Homo sapiens: one gene and its partners. The protein of the gene in region 6 purifies or fractionates together with the protein of the main gene of each other region. This does not show direct contact. Each region holds a gene or a part of one and is shown on either strand. Other genes may lie near its edges.

What was found.
Region 1: the proteins of EMB (region 6) and PPP1R9A purify together in Homo sapiens (affinity purification with mass spectrometry; one large-scale study listed by BioGRID and IntAct). This does not show direct contact.
Region 2: the proteins of EMB (region 6) and NEXN purify together in Homo sapiens (affinity purification with mass spectrometry; one large-scale study listed by BioGRID and IntAct). This does not show direct contact.
Region 3: the proteins of EMB (region 6) and MAP9 purify together in Homo sapiens (affinity purification with mass spectrometry; one large-scale study listed by BioGRID and IntAct). This does not show direct contact.
Region 4: the proteins of EMB (region 6) and RLBP1 purify together in Homo sapiens (affinity purification with mass spectrometry; one large-scale study listed by BioGRID and IntAct). This does not show direct contact.
Region 5: the proteins of EMB (region 6) and KIAA0825 purify together in Homo sapiens (affinity purification with mass spectrometry; one large-scale study listed by BioGRID and IntAct). This does not show direct contact.
Region 7: the proteins of EMB (region 6) and FSAF1 purify together in Homo sapiens (affinity purification with mass spectrometry; one large-scale study listed by BioGRID and IntAct). This does not show direct contact.

Annotation. Positions count from the first base shown.
Region 1 is NC_000007.14:95,250,094-95,253,593, reverse strand, and holds part of PPP1R9A (neurabin-1), read right to left. Parts: coding exon 3,339-3,500; intron 1,833-3,338; coding exon 1,736-1,832; intron 1,636-1,735; coding exon 1,464-1,635; intron 1-1,463. UniProt on the Homo sapiens protein: Binds to actin filaments (F-actin) and shows cross-linking activity. Binds along the sides of the F-actin. May be involved in neurite formation. Inhibits protein phosphatase 1-alpha activity.
Region 2 is NC_000001.11:77,912,624-77,916,123, forward strand, and holds part of NEXN (nexilin), read left to right. Parts: intron 1-3,431; 5' UTR 3,432-3,483; coding exon 3,484-3,500. UniProt on the Homo sapiens protein: Involved in regulating cell migration through association with the actin cytoskeleton. Has an essential role in the maintenance of Z line and sarcomere integrity.
Region 3 is NC_000004.12:155,363,466-155,366,965, forward strand, and holds part of MAP9 (microtubule-associated protein 9), read right to left. Parts: intron 1-3,500. UniProt on the Homo sapiens protein: Involved in organization of the bipolar mitotic spindle. Required for bipolar spindle assembly, mitosis progression and cytokinesis. May act by stabilizing interphase microtubules.
Region 4 is NC_000015.10:89,215,080-89,218,579, forward strand, and holds part of RLBP1 (retinaldehyde-binding protein 1), read right to left. Parts: coding exon 3,486-3,500; intron 2,246-3,485; coding exon 2,041-2,245; intron 160-2,040; coding exon 1-159. UniProt on the Homo sapiens protein: Soluble retinoid carrier essential the proper function of both rod and cone photoreceptors.
Region 5 is NC_000005.10:94,612,105-94,615,604, reverse strand, and holds part of KIAA0825 (uncharacterized protein KIAA0825), read left to right. Parts: intron 1-3,500.
Region 6 is NC_000005.10:50,413,789-50,417,288, forward strand, and holds part of EMB (embigin precursor), read right to left. Parts: intron 1-3,500. UniProt on the Homo sapiens protein: Plays a role in the outgrowth of motoneurons and in the formation of neuromuscular junctions.
Region 7 is NC_000001.11:231,224,176-231,227,675, forward strand, and holds part of FSAF1 (40S small subunit processome assembly factor 1), read right to left. Parts: intron 2,894-3,500; coding exon 2,798-2,893; intron 2,651-2,797; coding exon 2,564-2,650; intron 1,349-2,563; coding exon 1,296-1,348; intron 240-1,295; coding exon 104-239; 3' UTR 1-103.

The DNA of each region.
Region 1 (3,500 bases), on a different chromosome or scaffold from region 6:
CCTGAAGTCACACAGCTCCTCACTTAGTCGTAATGCTAATGCTAAATCCTCCTCTTTCAGCTGCCTAAGAGGCACTATTTATAAATTACATCCTATTTAGGGAAAACCCATTAGAAGGATATAAACCCAGTGAATGGATTCAAATCTCTAGATATCATTTTAATTTTAAATGAAGATTTCTAATCCTTTCCATTTTTAATGGCTAAGAGCTTAGTTCTAAAAGTTCATGATAGGATATAAACACTTGCTTATCAGGAAAACTTCACTGGAGACAGTTTAATATGTGAGAAAGATCACGAAAAAACTAAAAAGCCCATTATAACAGGGTTTTACTGCACGTCAAAGTGTTGCCTCTGAGTTGTCGGTCCTGTCATGACAACCCTGCTGCACCACATTCTTTTATTTTCATTTTCCAGGGACTACTATGTATATATTTAAAAAGATGAAGCCACACATTCCTGTGTATTTATCTTTATAATTATTATGTGTTTTCTAATTTGCAAATATACCACAGATATTAAAACAGTCATTCATGTTCATACACGTGCAATCTAAGAATGTTGTGTGTGTAAGAACATAAGTAATTTATTTATGGTTGGTGTATGAATGAAGATAATCATTTATAATACCAAATGTTTCCAGTGTTTTGGTCTTACTTGGTCTTTGACATGAAAGACCTAAGAAGTATACACAGTACACCATGGTAAAAGCACAAAACTATATGGACTTCGTTAACTACATGAATCTCAAGTGCTGAAAGCAGCAGTCTGCCTTCTGATATTATGAAAAAGATCTTTATTCTAGTGACTTAAACATTCTAAAGCTTGGCTGGGCGCGGTGGCTCATGCCTGTAATCCTAGCACTCTAGGAAGCCAAGGCAGGTGGATCACCTGAGGTCAGGAGTTCGAGACCAGCCTGGCCAACAAGGCAAAAGCCCACCTCTACTAAAAATACAAAAATTAGCCAGACGTGGTAGCACATGCCTATAGTCACAGCTACTGGGGAGGCTGAGGCATGAGAATCGCTTGAACCTGGGAGGCGAAGGTTGTAGTGAGCTGAGATTGCACCACTGTACTCCAGCCTGGATGACAGAGTGAGACTCTCAAAAAAAAAAAAAAAAAAAAAATCTAAACCTTAGTCATTAACACATAAGTAGTGTAGTTCATCCTAGATAGGATGAACTACAATTTGTAAGGCAGTTTATTAAATCTGTCAATTGTATGATGATTTTAAAATAGTATTTGGCTTATCTTTAGTTGTGATTTGTTAATGCTACATATTAAAGTATTTATTTTTGATAAGACGAGAGCTAAAATGATTGACTCCTATTTTGATAAGCCTTTTCTTCTTTCCCATAGTAGGAAGGTATTTCCAACTTTTAAATCTCTGGGTCAGAAAAAGAAAAATAAAAGGCCAAATTACACAGTCATCAAAAATGATTTTTGTGGTTGGGTTAAACAAACCTTGACTTAGGCCATCTTGGCAAGATGTCTGCTTGCCATCCAAGTTCTCCATGGTATCCCCTTTAGAGACTTCACCAAGAGATGTTCTTCTCTCAAAGATGTTGTTATTATTGTTAACTTGAGTCCCATTTTGCTTCAGTAGCCTGAATACCTCAGCTTCCAAATCTCTAATCTAGGAAAAACAAATCCATTTATAAAACTCTAAACTAGCGCTCCCCTCCAAGTACAGCAAAACCATCTTATTATTTAGTGTCTTAGGGAACACAACTTACCCGCACTTGGAGGCCTTGCACTTCCACAAGATGAGCTTTTTCCAAATCTTCTATTTTCTTTCTTTCTGCTTCCTGTCTTTTGATGAAATCAAGCTCTCTTAAGAAGAAAATAATAGTTCTGATTATATCATACACTCAATAAATGAAAGTTCTTATCTGAAACAATAAACTGCATAGTAGGATAAGCAACTGAACAGTTATTTAAATGGACAACATTCAATCAGTTAGAGGAAAAAGTATAGTAATGAAAGAAACTAAAACATCTTTAATGGGTCACAAGGCAAAGAAAAATGATTCGATTCTGCTTACTATAATTTTCTTTCGTAGCTCCTGATTCTAGAACACCCATACATATTTAGATAGGAAAGACTGCACTAATGACCCACATTGGGTAATTTAGTGGAGATAATTACTTGTCAGGTAGAAATAATTCCATTTTTCCAATGTCATAAGCATAGTATAGTAAACTGATGTAACTAGATAAGAGTTCGAAAAAGATAATTGTAAGATTTCTATGAATAACAGTGAAGAGGGGGCTGGGTGGGTCAGAAACATCGAGAGGGGCACTCACTTATAGACCTAAGGATAATATGGGGAGAAGAGAAACAGTTCCATTTTGAAAACCTGGAATAGAATATGCAAATTTAGCAAAATTTACTATAAAATTATTTCATGAAAAAGAGTTTGGCAAATAGTTAAAACAGTGATGTATTGAATTTATAGTCACAGAGAATAATTACTCCCCTTTTAACAAGAAACTTTTGATAGCAAAACTCTTTTAAATATTAAAAACATTCTTCCACATAATAGGAAATAAAAGAAATATGGTTAATCTTACATATATGCTTAGCTTCTGAGGCTTGGCATGGAAGACCAGAAAAGGTACTGGTACTACTTATTTGTTCTAACTAGCCAGAAGTAACTGATGAAAAAAATCTAGTAAAAATCTCCGTGGTCAGTCTCCGTGACATTACACCGAGATCCAAGAGATGGAAGCAAAGGAGCAGTAGCTCAGAAACAGCTGTTGAAAATCAAAAGCAGAATGTGGTAATGGTCTCTCTCCCTGCAGTGAAAGGAGGCCCTCCTGATTCTCTCAACAGCTGAGAAATGCAGAGTGGCAGGGCAGGGGGCCTTGCTAGTCGATATGTGCACTGTCTGTAGTGGGAAATTCTGTAGTTACTGATCTAAGAATAGAGAGGAGCAGCCTGATTCAGGCCCCAGCTGTGGCTTGCGTGCTCCACATCCAATAGTCAGTCATTCTACATGACTTTCCGCTGGGCTTCTTGTTTCTAAATCATAGAGGTGTTTCAAAAAGAATAAAGAAATTCAGATGTTTTAACAGTTATAAACAACGATTAATTATCAAAAATAGCAAAGAGGCCCTGGCAGCCAAAAACTATAAAATATACAAAACATAATCTCATGAAAAAGTGATAGAAGTGACTTCCAAAACTTAATGTGTATTTATGCTGTAACTATGCTCCTGGATAGGAAAGATATCTCTAAGGTCATCTTTTCTGTTCCACTAGATATTACAAAATTATTGGACATAAACCTTCTTTAGACAAACATAACTATTCTTTAGTTATTAGAAGCGGCTTACTTTTGTTGAAAATCCTTGATCAACTTCTTTGCCTTGTTGTATTTCTTTTCCAAGGCCTGATACTGGCTTTGAGTCTCTTTGAGATGCTCATTCACTGTGTGGCATAATGTTTGGGCCTCAATCCAGTAGCTTTCCAACTTCAACATTCTTTCCTTATTCTCT
Region 2 (3,500 bases), on a different chromosome or scaffold from region 6:
GAGAGCCCAGAAATAGATCCACGTAAATATAATCAACTGATCTTTGACAAAGGAGCAAAGGCAATAAAATAGAGAAAAGATTATTTTCAACAAATGGTGCTGGAACAACTGGACATCCACTTGCAAAAAACTGAATCTAGAAATAGACCTTACATTCTTCACAAAAATTAACTCAAAATGAATCACAGACTTACAGCATAGAACTATAAAACTCCTAGAAGAAAACATAGACAGAAATCTAGATGACCTCAGATTTGGAGTTCACTTTTTAGCTATGATACCAAAGTCACAATTCATGAAAGAAAGAATTGATAAGCTGGACTTCATTAAAATTAAAAAATTCTGTTCTGCAAAAGACACTGTGAAAAGAATTAAAAAATAAGCCATAGACTTGGAGAAAATATTTGCAAGTGACATATCAGATAAAGGACTGTTATCCAAAATACACAAAGAACTCTTACAACTCTGTAATAAGAATACAAACAACCCAATTAAAAAATGGACCAAAGGGCTGGGGACAGTGGCTCACGCCTGCAATCCCAGCACTTTGGGAGGCCGAGGTGGGCGGATCACCTGAGGTCAGGAGTTTGAGACCAGCCTGACCAATATAGCGAAACCCCATCTCTACTACAAATACAAAAATTAGCCGGGTGTGGTGGCAGGTGCCTGTAGTCCCAGCTGCTCGGGAGGCTGAGACAGGAGAATTGCTTGAACCCGGGAGGCGGAGGTTGCAGTGAGCCGAGATCATGCCACTGCTCTCTAGCCTGGGTGACAGTGCAAGACTCCATCTCAAAAAAAAAAAAATGGACCAAACAAAGATCTTAGGAGACATCTCACTGAAGAAGATACAGATGGCAAATAAACATATGAAAAGGTGCTTTAATATATTATTTAATATAATTCTAATTTAATATTTATTCATTTAATATATATTCAAGGAAATGCAAATAAAAATGACAATGAAATACCACTCCACATCTATTAGAATGGCCAAAATTCAGAACACTGACAACATCAAATGCAGGTGAGGATATGGAGCAATATGAACTCTCATTCATTGCTGGTGGGAATGCAAAGTGGTAAGCTACATGGTGGTTTCTTATAATACTAAATATGCTCTTACCATATAATCCAGTAATCATGGTCCACAAGAACCTGCATACAGATATTTATGTCAACTTTATTCATAAACACCAAAACTTGGAAACAACCAAGATGTCATTTGGTAGGTGAATGGATAAACTGTGGTACATGCAGGTAATAGAATATTATTCAGTGCTAAAAAGAAATGAGCTATCAAGCCATGAAAAACATAGAGGAAACTGAAATGCACATAACTATGTGAAAAAAGTCAATATGAAAAGGCTACATACTGTGTGGTTCCAACTGTATGACATTCTGGAAAAGTCAAAACTATGAAGACAGTAAAAAGATCATGGTTACCAGGAATTATGGGGGAGAAAAGCATAAGTAAGTGGAGTAAAGAGGACTTTTAGGTCAGTGAAACTGCTCTGTGCAATACTGTAATGATGGACACATGTCATTGTACATTTACCCAAAACCCACAGAATGTACAACTCAGGAGTAAACCCTAATGTAAACTATGGACTCTGGGTGATAATGATGTGTCAGTATAGGTTCATCATTTATAACAAATGTACCACTCCAATAGGTGGTAATAATGGGGTTATCCAGTGTTGATAATGGGGGTGACTAAGCATGTGCAGGGACAGAACATATACAGGAAATCTCTATCTTCTACTCAATTTTGCTGTGAACCTAAAATAAACTCTATTAAAAAAAAAGTTGGCTAGAAAATTCCAAAAGAAAAAAACAAAACAAGATAAAACAAACCTAAAATAAATATTTAAATGATAGGCCTAAACTCATTGATATTAATAATTACATTAAATGTTAATGAACTAAATGCTGCAATTAAAAAAACAGATTTTAGGCCTGGCACGGTGGCTCACGCCTGTAATCCCAGCACTTTGGGAGGCCTAGGTGGGTGGATCACAAGGTCAGGAGTTCGAGACCAGCCTAGCCAACATGGTGAAACCCCATCTCTACTAAAAATACAAAAATTAGCTGGGTGTGGTGGTGGGAGCCTGTAATCCCAGCTACTCAGGAGGCTGAGGCAGGAGAATCGCTTGAAACTGGAAGGCGGAGGTTGCAGTGAGCCGAGATCATGCCACTGCACTCCAGCCTGGGCAACAAGAGCGAAACTACGTCTCAAAAAAAAAAAAAAAGAAAACCCAGATTTTATCAGAATTGATTTTTGTAAAAAGCAAGGTCCAAACATATGCTGTGTCCAAGACATATGCTTTACATATAAAAACATAGATAGAGTGAAAGTAAATAGCTAGAAAATTATATACCATGCAAACTGTAAACCTAAGAAAGTTGGGGGCCAGATGCAGTGGCTCACGGATGCAATCCTAGCACTTCTGGAGGCCAAGGTGGGAGAGTTGCTTGAGCCCAGGGTTTCAAAACCAGTCTAAACAACACAGTGAGACCCCATTTCTATAGAGAAAAAAAAAAGAGCTGGGCATAGTGCTGCATGCCTGTAGTCCCAGCTACTTGGGAGGCTGAGGAAGGAGGATCGCTTGAGCCCAGGAGTTCAAGGGTACAGTGAACTGTCATTGTGCCACTGTACTTCAGCCTGGGTGACACAGCGAGATGCTGTCTCTAAAAAATAAATGTATAAATAAAAAGAAAGCTGGTGGCCGGGCATGGTGGCTCATGCCTGTAATCCCAGCACTTTGGGAGGCCGAGGCAGGCGGATCACGAGGTCAGGAGATTGAGACCATCCTGGCTAACACGGTGAAACCCCGTCTCTACTAAAAATACAAAAAATTAGCCGGACGTGGCGGCACACGCCTGTAGTCCCAGCTACTCGGGAGGCTGAAGTGGGAGAATGGTGTGAACCCGGGAGGCAGAGCTTGCAGTGAGCGAGATGGCGCCACTGCACTCCAGCCTGGGCGACAGAGTGAGATTTCATCTCAAAACAAAAACAAAAACAAAACAAAACAAAACAAGCAAACAAAAAACTACATAGTTGAAGATTGATAGAAATAGCCAAAAATTAGTAAAAATACAGATCTAAAACATGATCAACTACCTTCAGCTAGTTAATATTTATAGAGTAATACACTCAGTAATTGCTGAATACACATTCTTTTCAAGTGAACTTAGTATGTTCATCAAGCTATTCTGGATCAAAAACTTTCAGGGATCTTTTACCATCATGCACCTTATGTTTTCTATACCATGAATCTTGGGAAAAAGAGCTAAAGGTTATCACAATTTATTACTTGCTTGAATCATGTCAGTATTTTTTGAGGGGCAATTAACTGCTATTTCTATTTATAAAAATACATAATATATTACAAATAAATTAAAATTTATTATACAATATAAATTTTTTTCAGGTGCAAATATATACAGAGCTTCATAATCAGCCCAAGACCACATAGAGCAAACATGAATGATATTTCCCA
Region 3 (3,500 bases), on a different chromosome or scaffold from region 6:
TTTAGAGTTAGCAGACAAGGACTTTAAAATAGCTAATATAAATATGTTCAAGCACTTTGGGGAAAATATATGCATGATGGCTGAAAAGATGGGGGATTTTATATTAAAAAACAGAAAAAATACCAATAGAAAATCTGAAGTTGAACACCACAATAAGTGAAATAAAAAATTCACCTGGAAAACACACATACTTTGCAACTGCAAATGGAACTCTCACGACATACCCTTTTGCTGGGCCATTAAAACAAAACAAAATAATTTAATACAATTTGAAATCATAAAAGATACATTCTCCGGACCACAATCTGTAAACGTGAAGACTAAGTAATACAAGTTATTCAATCTTAAAAACAAAGAGGAAAAAAGATTTAAGAAATATAAACAGAATCTCAGAGATCAGTGAGATATAGCACAAATTTCAATGCATGTGTAACTACAGTACCAAAAGGAGAGGATGAAAAATAGGGTGGGAAATAACAATCTTCCCATTTCACAGACAGTATCAGCTTATAGGTTTGGAAAGCTCAACAAACGTCAAGCAGAATAAACATAAAGAAAGCTAGACCCAGGCACCATGCAGTCAAATTGCTGTAATCAAAAGATAAAAACCACAATCTTGAGTAAAATTCCTGACAGCATTCAGACAAAATCAACACATTATATAGAGAGGACAATGAAATGAATGATTACAAGAGAGGCCAATAAAAATGGAAACCTATAAAGAGCTGGAGGTAGAAGAAGGCAACTGTTAGACAAGAAGAATACAATCACATCAACCACCATTTGAAAACAAAGATGAGACAAATACTTTTAGAAAAGCAAAGACTGAGAAAAATCCATCACTAGTAAACCTGTATTACAAGAAATGTAAAATAAGTTTGTAAGACTGACAGGACACAAAATGGTAATCTGAATCTACAGGAAGAAATGAAGATCCCTAGAAATTGTATATGTATTTATAGATATGTAATATCTATAAATAGATTATATAGATGTTATATATCTATATAATATATAAGAATAGAATATATATTACCTATATATAGATATTGTCTACAAATATATATTATCTATATTTAGCAATAGAATGTTATCTATAATATATACAATATATAATACAGTAGATATATAATATATATTTATTCTAGCCTTCTTTAATTTTTTAAAAGTCTAATACAAAAAACTGAAAGGGCTCTTTAAGAAAAAGTTATAACTCTATTGTGGGGATTATAGGATATGTAGATATAATATATGACAATAGCACAATGGATGAGGGAGTATATGGAACTATATTATTCCAAGGTTTCTAGATCAAATGTGAAACAATACAATATCAATTCTAAATAGATTGTGATAATTTTCAGATATATTCTGTAATCCACTGATCAACTCTGAGAAATACAATGCAAACAAATATAGATAAAAGGTCAATAATAATAAAAAACTAAAAGATTCATGATTATCTCCTCAAAAAAAGGCAAGAAAGGAGTAACAGAGAAACAACAATAAAAACAATAATTTTAAAAAACAGATAAATAGAAAATAAAGAGCAACAAATTGCTCCTAAATCCAATCATAGCAGTATTTACATTAAATGGACAAAACATTCATAAATGGACTAAACACTACATTAAAAGGCATAGATTGTCAGACTTAATAAAAAAGTGACACCAAACTCTTATTGTAAGAGATTCACTTACATGAAAAGACAGAATTAGTTTGAAAGAAAAAAGATAGAAAGCATATACCATGGAAACACTTGTCATAAGAAAGCTGAAGTATTACACAAAACAATCTATAAGATAAGGAAAGGAATATTACCAGAGGTAGAGACGTTTCATAATGCTCAAAACATAATAATAATAAATGTGTATGTGCCTGATAACAAAGTTATAAAATACTGACAGAACTAAAGAGAAGTATAAACAAACCCACAAACATAACTGGATATTTTAATACCCCTAAGTTGGTAACGGGTAAACAAATTGGATGAAAAATCAGTAAGGATAAAGAAGATCTGAATGATATTACCAACCATGTTGACCAAACTTAAATTATACAACATTATATTCAACACCTGGAGAACACATCTACTTTGCAGATGCAAATGAGACTTTCACAAGATACACTAAAGCTGGGCCATTTAGAAATAATAATAATAATTTTTAAAAATTTGAAATCATGTAAGATACATTCTCTAGACTACAACAAAATTAACTTATAATTAACATCAAAAGTATATCTAGAGAAAAAACAAGTATTTGAAAATAAAATAAATCACCATAAAATAACCAACTGGTCAAAAAAGAGATCACAATGATCACTATATATTATATGTATCGAAAAATCACTATGTACCCCATGTACAATTATTATTTTTCAACTAAAAAAATAAATTTTTAAAACAGGAGATCACAAGGGAAGTTAAAATATATATTTAAAGAAATGATAATAAAAATAAAAGGCATCAAAAAATCGGGGCCACTAAAGCAGTACAAAGAAGAAAGTTTACACCTTTCAACAGGTTTAGCAGAAATCACGAAAATCTTAAAAATGAATGAGAAAATTTTCAAATCTAAAGATAAGCAAATTAAACCAAAAGAAAGTAAAAGAGGCCAGGCGCCGTGGCTCACGCCTGTAATCCCAACACCTTGGGAGGCCGAGGTGGGTGGATCACGATGTCAGGAGATCGAGACCATCCTGGCTAACGCGGTGAAACCCCGTCTCTACTAAAAATACAAAAATTAGCCAGGCATGGTGGTGGGTGCCTGTAGTCCCAGCTACTCGGGAGGCTGAAGCAGGAGAATGGAGTGAACCTGGGAGGCAGAGCTTGCAGTGAGCTGGGATTGCACCACTGCACTCCAGCCTGGGCGATAGAACGAGACTCTGTCTCAAAAAAAAAAAAAGAAAGTAAAAGAAATAATACTGAATAATACTGAAATAATACTGAAAATCAATTAAACAAACAATAGAGAAAATTATTAGGTTGGTGCAAAATGATTGCGGTTTTTGTCATTGAAAGTAATGGCCAAAACTGCAATTACTTTTGCACCAACATATGACAAAGCCGAAGTGGTTCTTAAAAACGTTTAATAAAACTAAGCAATGCCTATCAAGATTTAGCACGAAAGACACAAAACACAAATTATATATGTTAGAAATAAAAATGAAATGTCATGATAATCCTAGTCATCAAAAGAATGAGGGACTATCGTGAACAACTCTGTTTATAAACTCAACATATCAGATGAAATGGACAAACTTCTTGATAGACACAATTACCAAACTGGCAAAACAGAAAATGTGAGTACTGAAATACCTATTTAAAAAATCAAATGTAATGCCAAAGATGTCTCCACACAGAAAATTCCAGGCCCAGATAATTGTACTGGTGAATCCTCTCATTTAAGAAAATAATGATACCAAACTTTTATAAAATGAAGAAAAGACACTCCCCAACTCATTTGATACCCAAGCCTGATGGTAACATTATAAGAAAA
Region 4 (3,500 bases), on a different chromosome or scaffold from region 6:
GACTTTGCCAGTTCTCAATGTTGAAGAGCATGACCACTCGGCCATACTTGTCCCGACTAGAGAGGACACCAGGGTAGCCAGCTTCAATGGTGCAGCGGACAGCCTCTGGGGACAGGCTGTCAAAGAGCTCAGGGTACTGCAGCCGGAAATTCACATAGCCTGGAGGAAGGAGAGCAGAGGAACCCCCTCAGGGAGCCATCCCATCCCTACCCCATCCCTCCTAGTGGGACTCAGAGACCTGACCTCCTGCCAGGTCCTATGTGTGACCGAGCTGGCTACTCAACCTATCCGAGCCCCATGTTTCCTCTCCAAAAAATGGGATCTCGATATTGACCTATCTATTCTAGATAGTCTAGATAGTGGCCTATCTCACCAAATTGTTGTGGCAATCAAATGAGATTCAAGGTGTAAACATCATCATAAGCTTGGGCAAACATGAGGCATAGTCTTAAATATGAGGATAATCATTACTTGTTATTTTCTTCCCCATGGGGACAAGACACAGATTTTTCAGCTGGGCACAGGATAAGCTGAGTGGTGAGGTGTGCACAGGGCTGAGGAGAAGCTCCCAAGTAAAATCCAAACCCCAAGCAGGACACAGAGCTCCTGATTCCAGCAGCACCTCTACGGTCCACAAACACCATCCTTACCCATCCTGAGCAGTTCCCCACCTCTGTGGCCTGCACCACCAAATTTGAGCCCCTAGAGGACCTGGGCACCTCTGCCAAGAGACTGCCACATCAACTTGCTCACTGCTCTGGAACACTCTGGGCACCTCCCAACCCCTGGCCTTTGTCTTTGCTGTTGCCTCTGCCCTGGCTGCTCTTCCCCACAGATATCTCATTTCCTTCGGGTTTTTCTTCAAAATTCCCTTTGCACTGGGACTTCCCTGGCCACTTTATCTAAAACTTCAGCCCCTCAAGACTTTATATCCACCTCCTTAATTTCTTTCCTTATTCCTTACCATTATTTAACCCTATATAATTTTACTTTATTTATTGGATGTATTGTTTCCACCATTAGAATATGAGTTCCACCAGGGCAGGGAACTTGTCTGTTTTGTCTCCACTGCATCCCTTGGCCTAAAACAGTTCTTGGCACAGCATGGCCCTGAATTACCATTTGGAGAAGGAAGAAGTAGGAAAAGGAAAATCATTAGCCTGCAGAGGGCCCACTCAGACCCCATTTCCGTCCACCAGTGCCCAAGATTCGATTTCTTGAGGGAACCACCCCCTTTTTTTTTTTCTTTCTTTCTTTTTTGAGATAGAGTTTTGCTCTTGTTGCCCAGGCTGGAGTGCAATGGCACGATCTCAGCTCACCGCAACCTCTGCCTCCTGCGTTCAAGCGATTCTCCTGCTTCAGCCTCCCCAGTAGCTGAGATTACAGGCATGCGCCACCACGCCCGGCTAGTTTTGTATTTTTAGTAGAGATGGGGTTTCTCCACGTTGGTCAGGCTGGTCTCAAACCCCCGACTTCAGATGATCTGCCCGCCTTGGCCTCGCAAAGTGCTGGGATTACAGGCGTGAGCCACCGCAACCGGCCGATGATTTCTTGAGGCATCCTGTCTTCATCCAGCCAGCAGTGCCAGAGCGGTTCTGTCCCCGGGGTTCATTCCCAGGTCTGACACCATCTTCAGTTCCACTGCACATGAGGCTTAGGTAACTGCCCTGAGAGAGGCACTATCCACCTTCCTGCAGCATTCCAGAGCCAAAGCTTAGGTTCTCATGGTGGGGGTCTGGAGGGGAAATTCCTCCCCTCGTCACCCAAATGGGGTACCCAAGTTTTACTCATTGAATCCCAAGACTGGGAGAGAGTTGAGAGGACTCAGACCTCCAGAAATCTGCTCCTGACACACTTCATTCATTCATTCGTTCGCTCATTATCAGAGCTGACCCATTTTACAGGTAAGGATGTGGAGGCTCAGAGAAACTGACTTGCCCACAGTATGGAAGCAGGCCTGTTCAGTGCCAGGATGAGAGCGGATAGCATCCTCATGGCCTCCCGTCTTCCCAGGGCCGTCCCTCCAAGCACTGGCCTCACCTCTGAGCAGCTCATAGGCACGGCCCACGTTGAACTTCCGTGCGCGGATGAAGCGCAGGAAGAAGCCGCTGTCCTTCTCTTGCACCCTCTCCGCCACGGCCACCGCCAGCTCCTCCCCCGAGGCCGCCTGCGCCTGCACCATCTCCTGCAGCTCTCGCACTGCCTCCTCCCGGGTCTCCTCTCTCTCGTTCAGCTCATCCTTGGCCTAGAACAGGGTGGGGTGTGCATGAAGTTAAACTTAGGTGCGGGTGAGGGGCAGGACACACAGGTGATGAGTCTCCTGCCAGAGCTAGACCAGCCAAGGGGGCCCAGGGGTCTGCAGCCGCAGCTTTGCTTTTCTGCCCCAGGGGCAGCATCTGCACTGGCAACACCTGAGACTGTTGTGTGTGGAGAGAATTCGCATATTTGCAGAATATGGCCAACAGTCTAAAAGTTTCTAAAAATGACTGCCTACACTCACTGAGCCTTTGCCTAGCAACCTGCTAAGTCCTTTAAATGCACTGTGTTTTTTAATCTTTGCCACAGACCATCATGGTAGGTGTTCTTATCCCCAGCTCTCAGATGAGCAGACTGAGGCTCATAAAGGTGAAGATATTCTTGCTCAAGGTCACCCAGAGAGAAAGGAGTGGAGCTGGGACTCCTCTTTCCATCATTTCACTCTGCTGCCTCCCAGGCTTGATTCTGATTTTTTCAAAAACACGGCTCTCTGGCAGATGGCAGCCTGCCTCCTGCCCAGAGCCTCACATTCCTCCCCTCTGCTGGGTCAGGAGAACTCCTCCGTGCGCCTCAGGCAGCTCTCTCCTTGGACAGCATGAGGAGGGAAGGGAAAGGAGGGGGAGTAAAGTGTGAAGGAGCTAATAGCACCTTTCCCTTGAGATGCCCAAGGAAGCAGAGATGGAAGCTGGGTGCCCAGGCTCAGCTCAGCCACTTCTCATCCTCCCCAGCAGCCCTAAGACAGCTCTGTCAGCCTCCACAGAGCACAATCTGATCACCTCTGAGCTAGTCCACCAACCGTCTTTCATAGATACAGAAGGCAAGACCCAGAGATGGAAAGCAATCTGCCTAAGGTCACACAGCAAGCTGAAAGTAGGTCTGGTTCTGGAACTCAAGTCTCTTGCCTGTCTAGCAGGGGCAGCAGTTGGATCCTTGTTCCCCGGGGCCATTTCCAAACCAATGCTTCTCATATTGAGTCTAGTTTAGAGGGCCCTAGTTCCGAGGCTCTGGGCTGTAGTCTTGGGTTGGGCTGGCCTGGCTGGGTGTCTGGTCAACCCAGTTGCTGCCATAGCCGTGACCACCAGGAAGGACCTTAGAACCGGCCAGTCTATCAGGTCCAGGATGATCTGGAGTGCCGAGGCTGGACCCTTTTCACAGGAGAGAGAATGCAGTCATGTTCCCCTCATGTTGCCTCCCTAGGCTGCTCCTCTCCGCACTGTCAGCCACCTCACCTTCTGCAAGGTGTG
Region 5 (3,500 bases), about 44 Mb from region 6:
TTTCTGTGTTTATTCTCTGCTATTCAGTGTTAAATTACTCCTTACAGCACAGTGGGTAAGTATTATTATCCTCCTTTTACAGATGCTAAAACTGAGGCAAAGATAAGCTTTGTAAATTGTCGTAGGTTACGCATAGTCATTAAACACAGCTATGATTTGAATGAAGGGCTCTGATCCCAAAAGCGATAATCTTAACCACTTTGCTAGCCTCCAGTTGAATTTTTAATCCTGGTTCAGCTGCTAAATGTGTGCAAAAGCTCTGGGTATCATGTTTCTCATCTATAACATATAGGAGTTTGATGGATTATATTATCTGTAAGGTCCCTCCTACCTCAAAAATCCTCTGACTTTAGTTGACTCCTAAGTATTATCTGAATATAGCAGTTCTGGAGTGCCAGAAAACCCTCATCAATTTTGATGTGTTTTATGTAAGCTTTTATATGTGTTCACGTCTTCCACATTGGTGGACACACAATCATGTTTTTGCAATAGGAAGAATAGAGTTAAAAAAATCACAGCCATGCTTTTTTTTTTTTTTTTACCAGCTATGACACTAATAAGTCACTGAACCTTTGTGAGCTTATGTTTTCATATGTAAAATGGATCCATAGGATTGCTGTGAGCGTTAAGTGGGTTGACTTATAAAGCCTCAAACGTGTTGTCTGATACACAATTGCTGATAAATAAATATTGATTCTTTTTCTTGCTCAGTCTTGCAAGGATAAAAGATTAGTGGATATGAAAAATGCTTTATAAATTAGACAAAGGTGAAGAATATTTTCACTTACAGTCTACTAGGAGAGAGAAAGTTATATAAACAAATAATTATATGTAGGGCAATTTACATACATCATTGAACACAAAACATGGGAATGCAAAGAAAAGAGATTTTTTTTTTTCCAGGAGGGCAGATGAGGAAAGACCTCATAAAAAAGGTAATATTGAGTTTGTGCCATATAGGATGGAAAGGATTTTGGCAGGGGAACAAGAGGGACAAGTGTTCTACTGGAAGATGCAAAGGTGTCAGAAAACAGAAATAGTACCTAGGTCACTTTGGCTATGTAAGATGGATGAAGGCTGGTAATAAAGCTGAGGTAAAAAGCTGAGTTTAGGACAAGCTGTAGATAACTGTGGGCAAGTTAGAGATGTTAGGCTTTTAACGATAAGCAATAATCTGTGTGTATAACTAGGATGGGGTGGAGGATGGAGTTGGCATTTGTTTTCTTTGTTATGGAAAAACGCCCATTTGTTACAGAAACATTAGAGTGTACAAATATGCCAAAAAGGAAAGAGAAAGGAAGAGTGGCCCATGACCCCACCACTCAGAAATAACTTATGATTTTTCTCTGTATTACAGATTTGCATATATGTGCTTTTAAAATAAAAATGAAATAATACTGTCTATATTGTCTTGTGACCTGCTTTTTTCAATGTGCTATACCATGAATTTTTCCATGTCAATAAATTTGCTTCTATAAAATAATACTTAGGGCCTGTATGCTATTCAATTTTATGAATATGTTATAACTTTTAAACTGACTTCTTTCTGTTAAGTAATAGTACAATAAAGGTTTTTATAGTAAAATATTTAGACATATTCGTATCTATTTTCTTATTACAATTTGTAGAAGGAGAAATGGTCACCCACAGGATATGAACACATATAATACTTACATGTATTGCCATATTAATCAAATTTTTAATTGAAACTTGGTGCAAAATTCATAAGGTATGAAAGGGTATATAATGAGGCGTTAGCCTCCCTCTCACCTCGTTGTCCTCCTGACTCACAGCTAGCCCTTATAGCACCTTGTATGATTAGAAAAGGGCACCCCCTTCTGGAGGATCCATAACTCTTGGATATACACTGTGTAACTGATGCTACTTTTGTAAGGATTGGAAAAAGGCATCTTTTTCTCTATGGCAACAGCCCTGCAGGGACACATGGCTGGGCCAACAAAGTATGGGTTGGATTCAGCCCCTACTGACCTCCCTAGATTGAGTACTTTTATGACAGGTACTGCACCTGGCCTTTTTGACTATTTACTTTCTAAAAGCCAACACTAAAGCCAAATGCAGACTTTGTTAAAATACAGAAGACAAGATTGGCCGGCGCAGTGACTCATGCCTGTAATCCCAGCACTTTGGGAGGCCAATGCGGGCGGATCTCTTGAGACAAGGAGTCCGAGACCAGCCTGACCTACATGGTAAAACCCCATCTCTACCAAAAAAATACAAAAATTAGCTGGGTGTGGTCGTGGGCACATGTAATCCCAGCTACTCCTGGAGTCTAAGGCAAGAGAATCACTTGAACCCCGGGTGGTGGATGTTGCAGTGAACCGAGATCATGTCACCGCACTCCAACCTGGGTGACAGAGTGAAGGATTCTCTCTCAAAAAAAATACAGAGGACAAGGTCAAACTTTAGTGCATCCCTTGAAATACATACATCCCATATAAAAAGTTTTAACAACTATAAAAGTTCAAAACGAGACAATGTCATTTTGACTAATTAGGCAATGCAGTATAATGTAAACAACTGAATTCAGAGAGGACCTGGGGTTGAGCTTAAACTCATGAACATATAATGATAGCCTTGAAGAAGTTACTTAAATTCCCTGAGCCACAATTTCTTCATCTGTAAAGTAATACTATCAACTTTACTAGGATTAAATGTAATACTGTGTGTAGGTACACAAGCATCAGAAAAAAATTATTAAGGTCTCTAGTTTTGTTTTGTTTTTAATAAACTCACTGTTTTAAATTAGGGTCTGTGGCTCTAACTATGAAGTCAAACAGACTTGGATTTGAATCCCAACTCTGTCACAGTTGTGTGACAGTCACAGTTGTGTGACAGTGTGAAAGTTACTTTTCCACTGTTTCATTATTTGTAAAATGGGAATGATGATGTCTTCATAGGCCTTTTGTGAAGATTAAATAAAATAATGCATGTATAGAGTTTAATATGGTGCCTGGTGTAGTAAGGCACTTTATTTGTTCAAATTCTCCAAAAAGCAGATGCCAAGAGGAGGTAAGATGTACAAGATGTTTATTGGGGAGACTGCTTGTGAAGAATGAAGGAGAGTGAGAGTAGGAAAGAAATGCCTTCAGGCCTCAATGCACGTCTGACAGCCTAAAAAGAAGAGAAGGAAGGAAGAAAGAAGAGTTGAGTAAGAATATCAAAGTGCTACACTCTTCTAAGAAAGCTTCAATTAGGCCAGTGCAGAGTCCAAAAGCCAAAGTCATGTATTAGAGGAATCCCATGTTGCCACGGTATTCAATGTTAGGTATTAGTAAAAATGATCAACAGTTGTCATCTGCTAAAACTTACAAATACATTTGAATTTCAAATCTTGAATTTTACTCCCTGTGCCACCCCCTCCTGCCCTCAAGAAAAGTATAATCCCTACTGCCAGACATTGATACTAACATTTGGGTCATATGTTCTTACACTATCTTCTTATATTTTATAATACGGTTTTGTTAGCCAGAACAGTTAGG
Region 6 (3,500 bases):
GCTAGTCTCAAACTCCTGACCTCAGGCGATCTGCCTGCCTTGGACTCCCAAAGTGATGAGCCACCGCACCTGGCCTGGTTTTTTCAATAGACAAATTTTAAAAGGGAGAGAGATGTCTTTGTATCGGACGTCAGGTGCTATGTTTGGGGCACCTGAAGATTATAAGATACTCAAAAAATACTATTAAAAGAAAAGCAAAACTGAACTGTAATATTTAGGGATGCATACCTGGGTAATAAAGCAATACAGAAAAGCAAGAAAGTGACTGCATAAAAATCAGAATAGTGGTAATTACTCTTAAGGGGAAGAGAAGGAGTTGTGTTTGGAAGACGGTAGTATATCATATAAACAAATTTCTCAAGCTCTTCTCATTCTCAATAATGGTATAGTATGATGAAATGTAGAATGCAGAGCCAAAATGTAGAAAGAAAAATAATACAACTCAAATAAAATGGTCAGGTGCAATGGTTCATGCCTGTGATCCCAGTAATTTGGGAGACTGAGGTGTGTGGGATTGCTTGAGCACAGGCATTCCAGACCAGCCTGGCCAACATGGTGAGACCTCATCTCCACAAAAAAAAAGAAAAAATTAGCCAGGCTTGGTAGTGCATGCCTGTGGTCCCATCTAGTCTCAGGTAGAGGTGGGAAGATCTCTTGAGCCCGAGAGTTGAGGCTGCAGTGAGCTAAGGTGGCACTACTGCACGCCAGGCAAGGTGATAAAGCAGGGCCCTGTCTCAGGCAAAAAAAAAAAAAAAAAAAAAAAAAAAATTCTATCACTTTTAATTACATTTGAAACTTTACGAAATGCTTCCATAAGCAAGGACCAGATGCAAGGTTTGCAGATAGTGAAGTACAGCTCGTGCAAAGTGCTTTGTGAGCACATGCTTGAAATAACTGCTTGTAAAATTGCAAAATTGCTGAATTGAATTTAATGCTCAAAAAGAAAAATAATATTTGATGTCTCTAGAATACATATATTGCCAGAGACTACCTTATTCCTTGCAGTTCCCTTTACTGTGCTCTATTTCACTATCCTAGTATATTTTAAACATTTTGCTAGCCACACCAAATTATTCCAACTACCTTTTAAATGTTGGTGCCCATCAGGATTTTGCTCTCTGGTCTCTTTACTTCTCAATTTGGCACTTCTTTGTTGGATTCAACTATTAACTCTAATGCTCTTTACTTGCAAAATTAGAACCTCCACTGAAGTCGTTTTTTTATTTTACAGCTCCAGGTGTCTACGGAGCATCTAAATCTGGATATCCCATGAGAACTTCAAACTCAAAATATCCAAGAGATCCATTAATATTCCCTTGTGCTGACCTATAACACTGAATCACATGCAGTAGTATTTAGTTGATTCTACCGCTAAAATGTCAAACAAATTTGCCCAGTTTTATCCAACCCTCCTATTATTGGCCTTCATTATCTTTCACCAAGACCAGGTAAATTATCTAATTTCTCTTGGCCAGCTTCTCTTGCTCCAACCAAAGGACAACTTTGGTTGGAGCAATTTAAGCAAAACTCAAATTGTTTAACTGCCTTGATTCTATACCTTGCATGTGCAAATCAAAGTATCTTTGTATTAGACATCAGTTTCCTTATTTGTAAGGTGGGACAATAATATTCCATGAGATTGTAAAAAGTTCTATCATAAGAAACGTCAACAGTAATATAATATAGCAATTAATAAATGCCCACTTACTTCTTCTCACCATTATCTCACTGGGGAATATTATAAAAACTATCATATATGGTGCTAAGGGTTATATGTTGATTAAATAATTTAATCTTCACAACAGCTTTATGAGGTAAGTATCACTGCTACAATTCCAACTTTAGAGATGAGGCAAAGAGAGGCTATTTTGTCTAAGATTACACATCAAGACAAAGGCAACACTGAATCTCAGATTTAGGTATGCCTGAGTCCAGACTGTGATAACCAACAGAATATACCAACTCTCAAACATATTAAATTCTCATTACAATGGAATTAACTTCATCACCTTCAAACTGTTGAAACAAGATTTTAAATAAAAGAAAATATTAATAGAAGATTAAAGAAATGTACAGTGTAGCTATATACCAATATGAATGCGATGATAAAATGAACAGTGCAATCAAAATATTTTAAAAATACACATTTTCAACTAAACATAGTTTTACATAACTTAAAGTGCAACACAGTTTTTCTTAATGGTAGGCCATCCTCCAAGCCCTAATCGTTGTCTCACTGTTTCCTATAATACTTTGCAGGTGCTTCTGCAGTTTGCTGTGCTTCTGCAGTTTGCTTTCCTTCCTGTCAAGAAATCACAGCATCAAAAACATGCAAAAAGCTCTACCTTTTTACATATTTTGTGGTTAGCCAACAAACTAATGTGAGCTCAGTCAACGATGTTTCAACTTCCTTAATACTGCACAACTGCAATGCATTTTTGCTGCTTTAGAGTGCTGCAAAAACATCTATGACATCTGCATTTCTAAAACGATAACAATTTGTTGTTTTTGAAACGTATTTTCAAGACTGTTCTTAAAACCATATAGTAATTTATACCTGTCTAAATAATTTCTTATTTTCATAGGTAACATTTTTAAAGTATATGGGCCTTTCAACAATTTGCAGTCTTCAGAGAAATGACATTTAGATTTTCTTGGGTCTATTCAGGACCCAATCTTGTAAACCATTTCACTAGAAATAAAAGTCTGCTTTGTTCTTTATTAAGAAAAAGAAAATATGGAAGAAGCCAATTAAAATTTATTGCATAGGATAGTGTTTCCAAACATGCTTTAAAGATAGAAACCCTTACTAAACACAGTTAAGTGAACTGTGACATATACGACGGATTCGATGGGACAACTCTGACAGAAGCCAAGATAGAAAATACAGAGCCCTATCAGCCTGACTTTTCATTATTCATAATGAGGTAGGAGGTGGAATGTGACTCTGGACCAGATTGAAGACTGACAGAAACAAGGAAGAGGCAACGAAAGATCCTCTCCGTAAGACACACCCACCAGCACCATGACAGTTTACCATTGCCATGGCTACACCCAGAAGTTACCATCCCTTTCCATGGCAATGACCCAGAAGTTACCTTCTGTTTTCTAGAAATTTCTGAATACCTTGTCCCTTAATTTGCACATAATTAAAAGTAGTATAAACATGGCTGCAGAACTGGCCCTGAGCTGCTACTCTTGACACACTGCCCAGGGGTACCCCTGCTCTGAAGGAGAAGTCACAGAGCTGTAACAACCCTGCCTCAATAAAGCTGATTTTTCTACCACCAGCTCACTCTTGAATTCTTTCCTGAGCCAACCTTCTCGGGCTAAACCCCAATGTTCGGATTCACCTGCCCTGTAATAATTTCACCATAAAAGTCAATAAAGCTTCATGATGCAACCCAAAATGTCTATTAAACATCCAGAATCCTTACAGAAACAGAAGGCCACACTAACATGAGGCCAACACCCCTATATAAAAATGATACAATGGATCT
Region 7 (3,500 bases), on a different chromosome or scaffold from region 6:
TGTGAAATGCGTGTTAAGAACGATCTATCTAGAGTCGCACAGGGTCCAGGGCCGCTGCAGTTGACTCAGTTGTTCCCATCCTCGTTTTATTTGACAAAGTACTTCATTTGGCCACTCTGGAAGAATTTATTTTCTTGATATCAACTGGGCTCAGAATCAGTGTTCCATTTTTGAATTTTCCAACCTGTCCAATCCGTCCATTTGACAAAATACTGGGAGCGGACTTCTTTTTGGATTTCCTACATTTAAAGTAAGAGAAAGGTACTATAAATAGTCAAGCTTACCAACAAGCATCACAGTACCACCAACCAGGCCACTGCAGTCTGGCCTGCAAACTCCTGGTCGCCTGCCATGCACACCCCCCACCCCATACGCCTTCCTGTGGTCCCTGAAACATGCTACTGCCTTCCTGCCTCAGGGCCCTTGCACTGGTTTCTTCTGCAAGGAATGTTCTGCTACCAGCTCTTTCCAGGCTGCCCCTCTTCTTTGTTCAGTTCTCAGCTCCGATGTCACCTCCTCAGACTAATTTCCCAGCTCACCTTCTCCCTGTGGTTTTCCTTCACAATGCTCTCTTTCAGCCTCTCTACAATACTTGCCAGTACCTGATATCATCTTACTTATCCATTTGTATGTTTTGGGGTGTTTCTCTCCCTACAATGAAGCTCCTCAAGGGCAGGGATATCTTTAGTGTGATTACAGCTGTACACCAATACCTAAGACACCCACATGCCTGGCACAAAGAGGCATTCAACAGATACAGATCGGTGGCCAGAACAAATGACCATTTTACAGCATGTACAAGTGCACTAGGAGCCCAAGAAAACAGGCTAAGACAAAAAGAGTCCATTCTGAAACAGTAACTCAAAGACAGAGAAAAAGGCATTTGAACAAAAGCTAACAAACAAGTATAAAGCAACAAAGTCAACATCCCTTATTCATAATTACGGTGCTCTATCTTACGTGGTATGTCAAAGAGCAGGCTATACAGACCCAGACTACGCTGCTGTAGCAGCACTCTTAGAAGTCTTTTCTTGGAAATGTAAACTGCAGCTTTTCCACTAGTCACTTAGAGTGTCGGTGAAAAGTGGAAGATTGGAGAAACTTCCTAATTCAGTTCTCAGGCAGTTGTTTGATCTTGGGCAGTTTACTAAATCCTACTTTGACAAGGATAAATGAGAGACAGTGAAGCGCTCTAATGGGCTAGCAACACCACATACATTCAAGGCGTCCTTGTCAGAACTCATCAGTAGGTTCATCCAGATTGTTCAACCCCAGGACCTGATAAAATCACTCACCTGTCCTCCTGTCCTTTCCTCTTCTTTTTCTTGAAAATATCTGTTTCTTGGGCCTGATTTCAGAATTTAAGATCATATACATATTAGTAGTGGATAATGGGATTCAAACAAAAGGCAAGAGGTTTGTGACCAAAAGTCATTGAGATACCATTTTTAACATTTCTTTCAAGTGGGCATATTAAACATAACAGTCTCAAAGTTTTACCCTAAAACCCTTTCAAGAATGTGAAAGGCTGGGCCTGGCGTGGTGGCTCATGCCTATAGTCCTAGCACTCCAGGAAGCCAAGGGGGGAGGATCACTTGATCCCAGGAGTTCAAGACCAGCCTGGGCAACACAGCAAGATCCTGTCTCAGTTAGAAAGAAAAAGACAAAAGAATGTGAATGGCTATTCCAGGTAAGACTAATAGTCTTACACTGAAAGCTCAAATCTTCCATTTTAGGTGAAAGGTAGAAAGTGTAACATCTATTCCCCTTGTGGTTTTTCATAGGCCCTTGTGTTGTATACAAGGTTATACAACGTAAAATGCAAAAAAAAAAAAAAAAAAAAAAAAAAACCTAAGTATAGAAGAAAGATCAAAGTAGCCTGCATTATTGGAACAGGATTGCTATAGTTTGGATAGCTGACCCTCCAAACCTCAGGTTGAAATTTGATCCCAACATTAGAGACGGGACCTAGTGGGAGGTGTTTGGGTCATGGCAATGGATCCCTCATGAATGGCTTGGTGCTGTCCTCATGGTAATGAGTGAGTTCTCCCTCTGTTACTTCCCACTTCCCATGAGAGCTGTTTGTTAAAAAGAGCCTGGCACCTCTCCCCACTGCTGCTTCGCTCTTTCATGTCTCGCTCTTGCCATGTGATCTCTGTACACATGGGCTTCCCTCTGCCTTCCCTCATGAGCGGAAGCAGCTTCAGATGCTCACCGGAGGCCGAGCAGATGCCAGTGCTATGCTTTCCATGCAGTCTGCAGAACCATGCTCCAAATCAGCCTCCTTTCTTTATAAATTACGCAGCATCAGGCATTCCTTTACAGCAACAAAAACGGACTAAGACAAGGAGTTTGCTATTTCAAAGCAAATCTTGCATGTAAGTACGCCAGATTACTTGGCTGGTATTACTAAACAGAGCTAACTCGAAGAAATGGGGAGCATGGGATCCTTTAACTCTGGTGCCTTCATTGCTCTCCAAGCAGCGGCTTCCGGCATTCCACTGTGGCAAAGAGCATCCATCTTCCCATTCTAGTTGAATAAAGGACAGACCATCACACCTACCAGTCTCTTTTCTTCTTCCTTTGCTGCCTTTTTTTCTTTAATTTGCTCCTGTAAAACCTTGTAATTCACATAACTCTTTTTAGGAGGCTGTAATGAAAGAACAAAGAAACAAACCATCATATTTTATTCTGCAAAAATGTTCCAGTGTCCCTTGCCCTGACTTGCTCTTAGCTTTCCTTGCTCTTGCTTTTTTTGCATGTTGTCTAGTGATGAAAGGTAGCAGCAGCCCCTCACCTTAGCGCCCAGCATAATGGCACGTTCCTGTTCCAGGATTCTCTCCTTTCCTTTTCCATAACCCGTGATACCAAACCGGTGCACTTCTAAACGAGCCTGCGGACACAAAGCATAATCAGACGCAAGTGCATTCCAACAACTCCAAAGAAAAAAACATACTGCCAGAAGTAATGCATTTCAGATCCACCGCTCTGTAATGACAGCGTACAGGAATAATAACTCCACTGTCATGTGGTCAAAGGAGCTCTATGGAGGCTCTCCTACCATACACCATCTCTCACAACATCTTTCTCCTGTTTTTTTTCCTTTGAGACAGGGTCTTGCTCTGTTACCCGCCAGGATGGAGTACAGTTAAAAAGAGGCATGATCATGTCTCACTGCAGCCTTGACCTCCTGGGCATGTGATCTCCTGCCTCAGCCTCCCGAGTAGCTAGGACTATAGGCACGCACCACCACACCCAGCTAATTCTTAAAAAATGTTTTATAGAGAAGAGGTCTCACTATGTTGCCCAGACTGGCCTTGAACTCCTAGGCTCAAGTGATCCTCCCACCTCAGCCTCCCAAAGTGCTGGGATTATAGGTGTGAGCCACCGTGCCTGGCTCTCGCCCACGGTTTTTTTTTTTTTTTTTTTTTGAGACGGAGTCTCACTCTGTTGCCCAGGCTGGAGCACAGTGGCATGATTTCAGCTCACTGCAAGCTCTG